3 separate regions of the Homo sapiens genome follow, and regions 1 and 2 are each linked to region 3. The links come from fine-mapping of genetic effects on gene expression. A gene starts in region 3. Each other region holds a variant in brackets. All regions are shown on one strand. Distances are from middle to middle.

The links.
Region 1: its variant is fine-mapped to the expression of B3GAT2 in tibial nerve (GTEx, PIP 0.93).
Region 2: its variant is fine-mapped to the expression of B3GAT2 in pancreas (GTEx, PIP 0.98).

The regions. Positions count from the first base shown.
Region 1 is chr6:70,867,643-70,870,404 of GRCh38, reverse strand. All of the region lies in intron 2 of B3GAT2 (beta-1,3-glucuronyltransferase 2), which reads left to right. Among named protein-coding and RNA genes, the nearest start is that of B3GAT2, 88 kb to the left of the region's middle. The variant T/C (reference allele first, on the strand shown) is at 1,086.
Region 2 is chr6:70,857,975-70,860,736 of GRCh38, reverse strand. SMAP1 (small ArfGAP 1) reads right to left here. Exons shown (of 11, transcript NM_001044305.3): 10 at 2,508-2,762; 11 at 1-537. The coding sequence ends at 403. It overlaps B3GAT2 (beta-1,3-glucuronyltransferase 2), which reads left to right. Exons shown (of 4, transcript NM_080742.3): 4 at 1-2,762. Among named protein-coding and RNA genes, the nearest start is that of B3GAT2, 98 kb to the left of the region's middle. The variant A/G (reference allele first, on the strand shown) is at 1,350.
Region 3 is chr6:70,955,727-70,958,488 of GRCh38, reverse strand. B3GAT2 (beta-1,3-glucuronyltransferase 2) reads left to right here and starts at 1,429. Exons shown (of 4, transcript NM_080742.3): 1 at 1,429-2,650. The coding sequence starts at 2,060. It overlaps LOC124901229, which reads right to left and starts at 2,061. Exons shown (of 2, transcript XM_047419611.1): 1 at 1,961-2,061; 2 at 1-1,857. The coding sequence starts at 2,061. The coding sequence ends at 1,131. RefSeq lists an enhancer at 1,654-2,169 and silencers at 2,098-2,227, 2,698-2,762.

The DNA of each region.
Region 1 (2,762 bases), 88 kb after region 3:
CTCCCCCCACCCCACAACAGTCCCTGGTGTGTGATGTTCCCCTTCCTGTGTCCATGTGTTCTCATCGTTCAATTCCCACCTATGAGTGAGAACATGCGGTGTTTGGTTCTTTGTCCTTGCGATAGTTTGCTGAGAATGATGGTTTCCAGCTTCATCCATGTCCCTACAAAGGACATGAACTCATCATTTTTGATGGCTGCATAGTATTCCATGGTGTATATGTGCCACATTTTCTTAATCCAGTCTATCGTTGTTGGATATTTGGGTTGGTTCCAAGTCTTTGCTATTGTGAATAGTGCCGCAATAAACATACGTGTGCATGTGTCTTTCTAGCAGCATGATTTATAATCCTTTGGGTATATACCCAGTAATGGGATGGCTGGGTCAAATGGTATTTCTAGTTCTAGATCCCTGAGGAATCGCCACACTGACTTCCACAATGGTTTTACTAGTTTACAGTCCCACCAACAGTGTAAAAGTGTTCCTATTTCTCCACATCCTCTCCAGCACCTGTTGTTTCCTGACTTTTTAATGATCACCATTCTAACTGGTGTGAGATGGTATCTCATTGTGGTTTTGATTTGCATTTCTCTGATGGCCAGTGATGAACACACACAACTGTTAATGCTAATTAAATGAGTTTAGCAAGACTGCATTGATACAAAATCAATATATGAAAATCAATTGTATTTATATACACTAGCAATGAACAATCTGAAAATTAAACTAAGAAAATTTCATTCACAATAGTGTCAGAAATAATAAAATGCTTAGTAATAAAGTATGACTTACACAGGAAACTATAAAATATCACTGAAATGAAGAACTAAATAAGTGGAAAGATATGTTCATGGATTAGAAGACTTAATATTGTTATGGGTCAGAAGACTTAATATTGCTAAAATGGCAATATTCCCCCAATTAATCTACAGATTCAATGCAATCTTTATCAAAATTCTGGCTGCCCTTTTTGTAAAAATTGACAAGGTATTTGTTTCTAAAATTGATATGGAAAGTGATGAACTCAGAAAGAAGTTAGGGGATTTATACTTCCCAATTTGAAAACTTATAAAACTACAATAATG[T/C]CATCACCAGATGGAGCGACATGCACCTTATAGTCCCAGCTACTCAGGAGGCTGAGGCAGGAGCATCCCTCGAGCCCAGGAGTTTGAGACCAGCCTGGACAACATAGGAAGACCCTGTCTCAACTTAAAGAAAGCAAACTACAGTAATACAGTGTGGTACTGACATAAGGATAGCCATATAGATTAATGAAATAGAACTGACAGTGTAGAAATAAATCATTTATGGTCAGTTGATTTTTGCCAAAGGTTCTAAGACAGTTCAATGGGAAAAAAAGTCTTCTCAAAAATTGGTTCCCAGAGTTATGAATATGCTAAAACCGCCCTTAATCATACCATATAAAAGGACAAGTTTTAATATATGTGAATTATATCTCAATAAGGAGGGGTGGTGGGCAGGAAAGGTGGAAACACACAACATTCCAAAAGGCAGTGTATGCTTTGCTGGGAAGAGGTATGAAAGGAGAGTTGGCCGGCTCAGAATTAGAGGAGGTCCCACACATATCTTTCTTTCTCCAGCAAGTTCCATGACTGCACTGTGTGTATATACTTTTTAATATGAAAGTTGAAATCTCTTTTTCTTATTGTTTAACGTGGGGGGGGAAAGAGAGGCTTTTGAAATTACCTGATAGCTATTGGTAACACTAAACATGTGTCAAGAGCCCAATACTCTAGGACAACTACCCAGAGTGATTATTACACAGAAAAAGCTGTTAGTATCTTTCTTGTGGCCAAACTATAAAAGTCTTGTTGCCAAAAGTCATCGTTTAGAAACTGGAACTAGTTCTTATTTGTAACAGCCTTGCTGAGATTAGATGATGTATAGTTGGAGAAGAGAGAATGTGGCAGTGGGATGAGCCTATGGAGGTGAGGCTAAATTGATACTTACACAATAGAAGAACTGAGAAGCACTATTGATACTGTTAACTGTGGCTGAAGGAAGAAGAGGAGGCTTGCTGTACTTCTTCCTTTCCAATATTTCTGCCTTTTTTGTGGGGGTGGGAGCCTTATTTAAATGGCCAGGATCTCCAGGACTTTGTTGAATAAAAGTCAAGAGCAGCCATCCTTGCCTCATTCCAATCTTCAGGGATTTAACACTCAGTCTTTCACCAATTAAGTATAATGTTGGCATTAGGTATTTTTGTAGATGTCCTTATTAAGTTGAGAAAGTTCACTTCTAGTCTTAGTTTGCTGAGAGGCTTTTATTTCTTCTTTTCATTATGACTAGATGTTAGATTTTGTCAAAGCATTTTCTCCAGCTATTGTGATAGTCAGATTTTTTTTTTTAGTCTGCTAATATGGTGAATTACATTGATTGATTTTGAAATTTTAAACCAACATTGCAATCTGGAGATAATCCTCAAGTGGTCATGATTTATTGTCTTTTTATTGTTGAATTTGATTTGCTAAAATTTTGAGAATTTTTCTGTGATCATGAGGATTATTAGTCTGTAGTTTTCTTGTAATGTTTTTGTCTGGTTTTGGTATCAGGGCAATGCTGGTCTTACAGGATAACTTGAGAAAGATTTCCTCCTTTTCTATTTTCTAGAAAAATTCATGTAGAATTGCTGTCATTTCTTCCTTAAATGCTTGGTAGAATTTACCAGTGAAGCTCTCTGGTCCTGGAGGGTTGTGTGTATGTGTGTGGAAGATTTTAATTATAAACTTAATTTATTTGAT
Region 2 (2,762 bases), 98 kb after region 3:
ACAGTACCTTCCTACAGGATTACTGGCTAATTTTGGGGTGGGGTTTATACTATTAGAGGTATTACTAACATGATAACTACTTCCCTTATATGCAAACATTAGAGCTATAATTTTATTGAGAGGAAAACTGATTTTGCAAGTTGAGCAGCTTCTCAAATAATGCAGTACATGAAATCATGGGAAATATGAGCAAAGCTGCCCTTGACATAAAATGATTTATCAACCTGCTTTTCACCACATCAAATTGAATCAGTACAGACCAACACGGTCAATCAGATCATTCTTAATATGAACAAATGGGTAAAAAGAAAAAAAATATGCATATGAATAAACAGGGGAACTAGATGCGTTTCAGCAAGGAATGTCAGGTGGTAGTTCTGGATGAAACTTGTATTGCAGTTTTCATTTCCACAGTTGTGTGCTGAGAGTCTGACCTGATGAGCTTCCAGACCATCCTGCTGTTGTGCTGGAGGGCTGGCCAAAACCTGCAGTAGGGGTTGCACTACTGATACTCATGCCAGCCATCTGCTGATTCATCTGTGAAACATATAAAAGGCTTAGTTCAAGAGGCTTACTTCACTTTTAATTCTTGTTTCTTTAGCCACACAGTTGGTCATTTTTTCATTAATGTGACAACTAGTCCAAGCACTGGAATAAAAACAGAGTACCATACAAATATTTCTTAAAGCAAATAGCTACTTTGTTCCCTTCTTTATCTACTTTCTAGATACAGTTTCCCCAAAGATTAACCACAACTTACTTAAAAAAAAATACCAAAGCAATCTTGGGATTTTAATGAGTCCGCTACTCTAACTAACTTTCACCTACACTAGGATATTGTGCTTTAACTACTAAGGAGTAAGAAAATTTTAGGAAGTAAAATAGTCTAAAATTATCCTATAAACTTTGTATGATAGATATTATTCTCTATTAAAATCTTATATACTTCCTAAATATTTTTAAAGTGGTCATAAAGCATTTATTTCTCTCGCTGATCTAACAACATAAACATCTAAAATTTATTTTCATTGTATGCAATAAAGCATAAGATTACATGTATTTTTCTTCAAGACTGGAGTCAAATATATATATATATAAGCATCTTAACCCTGTGATTCTCTTACTTCCAAAATTGGTGATAAGAGAAGGAAAGGCAAGATTTACCATATAGTGAGTGGGTTTAAAACTTACACTCAGAGTTAGACTGTGTTCTTAATTTAATACATTTGACTTGACTTATTTACAGTTTCAAAGACACTAACATAAACTACATCACTAATCAGGCATAAGTGTCTGAAGAAGCAGATCACGTCTTCATACCTACTAAAGGACATTTTAACCACCTTGTC[A/G]TTGGCCAGTAGATTGCACTGATGGAGTGCTGGAGAACAGCATCACCCTTCTGCATTATCTGGAAGTAAGAGCCAGTATTAACTCCTTCCTGGTTCATCTAGCACCTTAACCTGAGCTGGGTGTGCTTCAGCATGTTGACCATGTGACTGACACTTAGCACATACAATTTTTTAGATTCCCAGCGGGTAGAGACCAATGTTTTACCTATATTCTTGTAAATGGTGGTAGCAAAATTAACTGTGATATATAGTGATTGTGCTAATGTTAGAAATCACTCTAGACTATTCCCTGAATGCTCTAAAGGTAAAACAAGTGACCAAACAGAAACCAAGATTGCCAAAATGCTGGAGGAACATCAATGGGAAGTGTAAAAGGAAGAAGAGTGGGAGCATGAACCTCTCTAAGAGCCTTTGTCTGTGCAGCTAGAGAAAAGTCAGAACACAGCACCTGAAATAGAAATGTTCTATCTCAGCTCTAACTTAGGTAGAAATAGGATTTTATAATATGAGGGGATGTCTGGTTCACACCTTATGGGAATTGAATCTTTTTGTACTCTTTTTAAACATAAAAGTCATTATAGGGTATGTAAAAAGAAAATACAACTTTACAAAGGTTTCTCAACAAAAAGAATTTTTACAGAGCCATGGGGCAGTAATCATCCGACCTGAAAAATAGCCTTAGATCCCTCATAAAATAGTGCTTTGAGAATATGAGGCTAGATTTTTATTTTCTAATAAAAGATCCTAAAATTATTAGTGAAGCTAAGTTGTCTAAGTGGACTGTAAAAATGTCCCACCAGCAAGCTGGATAAAGCTTAGTGCTAATCTCAGAGGTGACAGAGAGGGAGTCTCATGATGCCTGAGATAATTTCTGGCCATTAGTGGTGTTCACGTTACAGTTACATTACAATTTGAAATGAAAGATGTTTAACCTTTTTTTTACAGAATACTCTAAAATAGCGATAATAACACATCATTTGTCTATCTGATACAACTTCATAATATTTATAGATACTTTTGACCCTATAACATATTATCCCTATTGAATTCTTTCTGCCAGATCACTAGACTTAAAAAAAAAAAAAAAAAAAAAAAAAAAAGATTTAGAAAATAAATCTGGTTTGATTTGGGAGAAGCTAGAAAGTAAATGACCCCTACCTGTGAGAGGCTCCACTGGGGCTGCTGAGCTTGCGGCAGGCCAAACTTACTCTGGGGTGCACCCATTTGTCCCACCATTCCTCCTTGGGGGCCAACAACGTTCTGAGGAAGTGGCATCACACCAGTTTGTGCATTTCCCATAAACCCATTGGGCATGGGCATGCCCACCATCATGCTTGGACTCTGTCCCATCACATTTCCTATAAGGCCAGGAGCTGCAGGCACAGGCACGCCCATCGATGGAAAGCCCTGAAA
Region 3 (2,762 bases):
AGGGAAATTCACAGATGAGCCAATGCCTTTTAACAGGTGGGGGGTTCAGGGGTAGGACTGGGAGAAGAGGAGCTGTCAGAAAAGCTGGAGAGCCATTCGCCCCAGAGCTCTCAGTTGCACCAGAACGCACAGTCGGAGAGAGATTTATTTGTGAACAAGCCCGAGAAAGGCAGACAACCCAGACAAGATGGGCTCAGAAATTATTTATCATAGGCTAGGGCAGAACAGTCTGGAGCTTTCCTTCTGCTTTGCAAGCACTTCCCTGGGACCTGCCTGGGAAGCACAGCCCTTCTTCCTGGTAAGTTACAGAAGGTCAGGCACTCAGCTAGTAGGCCAGCTAGACAGCAAAAAGTGTCTAAACTAAGTGCCAACTGTTTACTTGGGGTCTTCCAGACCCTATCATGGTTCTATTCGTCATGGTACACTCTGTTTGATTTCAATCGCACCATCTTTATATGTAGGAAGGCCAAACCGGCCCGGCTGTGTTGGGTGGGATTTCTGCAGGCCATGCAGTGAGGACGCCACTAGCTATAGACACACGCAGGAGACCCACGTTCTATTTCCATATGCCACTTGCCACTGACCTCAGAGAAATCATTTTAAACCCTGAACCTCAGCTTCCTTATCCTGAAAATGAAGGCCATTCTACTTCTTAGGCCTTCTTGACAGGAGCCTTGGGAGAGCCAAACGGAGTAATTCCGGTGACAGCGAAGAACTGGGAGGGACCGTGACTCCAAATTACTGAAGAAAAATAAGTTAAACATGCTCGGCTGGAGTTTTAGGAATTCCACCCGCCCCCACCCGCCATGATCAAACTGCAGTCAGGCAGCAGCCCTCCGAATTGATTCTTTCTTATGGACTGTCTCACATGCCAAACACCTATGTGCAGCACCCCTCCATCTCCGTGGGCTCCTATTGATGTCTGCCTTGCAGTGAAAGCGCTTTTTGTTGCCGCTGTTCGATACACCCCAGCACATCAACGCAGCAGCTGGGAGCAGGAGGAGGAATCCCTTCGCTTTCTCCCCTCCTTTCACTCCGAACCCTAGGCATCAGCAGCAACGCGCGTAGCCCGGCAAATTTCCGCACGTGAATGGATTTTCCTGGCTCATCTCCAAAGACCTTGCGGTATTTCACAAAGCTGAAGAGAGGTGAACGAGCATCACCCCCTCCAGGAGGTCGTGCAGCCCCGCGGGGACGCTCCTCCCGCTCCTCCACCCGCGGTGCAGCGGCCGCCTCCCGAGCTTGCTCGCGGGGCCGTTAGCGCCAGACCCGGCGGAGAGCCAAGGGGTCCCTCCGCGCCTCCCTCTCGCAGCCCCTCTCCACCAGTAGCAGCGCTGCTGTCTTCCCACAGGAGGACTTGGGAGGACGCTGGATTCTGCAGCGCCCCCGCCCCCTCGCTTTTTCTTTCTTTCCTTGCTTTGGGATCTTGCTGCTGGATCCGGAGAGGTTCTGAGAAGACAAGAGCAAGGGACTGAGAGCAGGCTTCCGCTGCGGCGCGCGAACACAGCCGGGACACAACCCCCAGCGTCTCCACCCGCTCCTCGCCACCCCGGCGGGAATGTGAGGAAGGAAAGCCCCCAGCGCCGCCGCCCGCCCTCGAAGGCGTCCCAGAGAGCGTCCTGGGGGCCCGCGGCTGGAGCCCTTGTGCCCGCAGCACCGCCGGACTGGAGCGGCGAGGCGCACCGGGTGCCGCTTCTCGGCTTCCACTCTTCAGAAAGAGCGCGGTGGGGATCAGCGCCTTTCCCGCACTCGGCACAACTCCGGGACCGGCGGCGCGCGGCTGGACCGAGTCCCGCTTCCCGCCAGCTCACCTGGAGTCGGGGGCAGCCCCTGCCCGCCCGCCTGCACCCCTTGTCGCTCTAGCTTGCGCGAACCTGCCGCTCCTCCACGCCCAGGTAGTGAGCCCCGCGGCTCCAGGTCTCTGCAGCGCCCTCGGCCCCATGGACAGCGCACCCATCACCACTCCCTAAGTGCTGGCGCCGCCGCTGTCCAAGCTGCGCACTGGGGTCCCTCGGCTCGCCCCTCTCTGGGGTGTCCGAGAGGCCAGGGAGCGTGCACCATGAAGTCCGCGCTTTTCACCCGCTTCTTTATCCTCCTGCCCTGGATCCTAATTGTCATCATCATGCTCGACGTGGACACGCGCAGGCCAGTGCCCCCGCTCACCCCGCGCCCCTACTTCTCTCCCTACGCGGTGGGCCGCGGGGGCGCCCGACTCCCGCTCCGCAGGGGCGGCCCGGCTCACGGGACCCAAAAGCGCAACCAGTCTCGGCCGCAGCCACAGCCGGAGCCGCAGCTGCCCACCATCTATGCCATCACGCCCACCTACAGCCGCCCGGTGCAGAAAGCGGAGCTGACCCGCCTGGCCAACACGTTCCGCCAGGTGGCGCAGCTGCACTGGATCCTGGTGGAGGACGCGGCGGCGCGCAGCGAGCTGGTGAGCCGCTTCCTGGCGCGGGCCGGGCTGCCCAGCACTCACCTGCACGTGCCCACGCCGCGGCGCTACAAGCGGCCCGGGCTGCCGCGCGCCACTGAGCAGCGCAACGCGGGCCTCGCCTGGCTGCGCCAGAGGCACCAGCACCAGCGCGCGCAGCCCGGCGTGCTCTTCTTCGCTGACGACGACAACACCTATAGTCTGGAGCTCTTCCAGGAGGTAAAGGCCAGCCTGCCCCGCTGGGTGGGCGAGGGCGGGAGTGGGCCTCCGGGCCGGCCGGGCTGCAGTCACACGCCCCTTGCACTCCGGGTGCACTTTTGAGTTCTCAGTT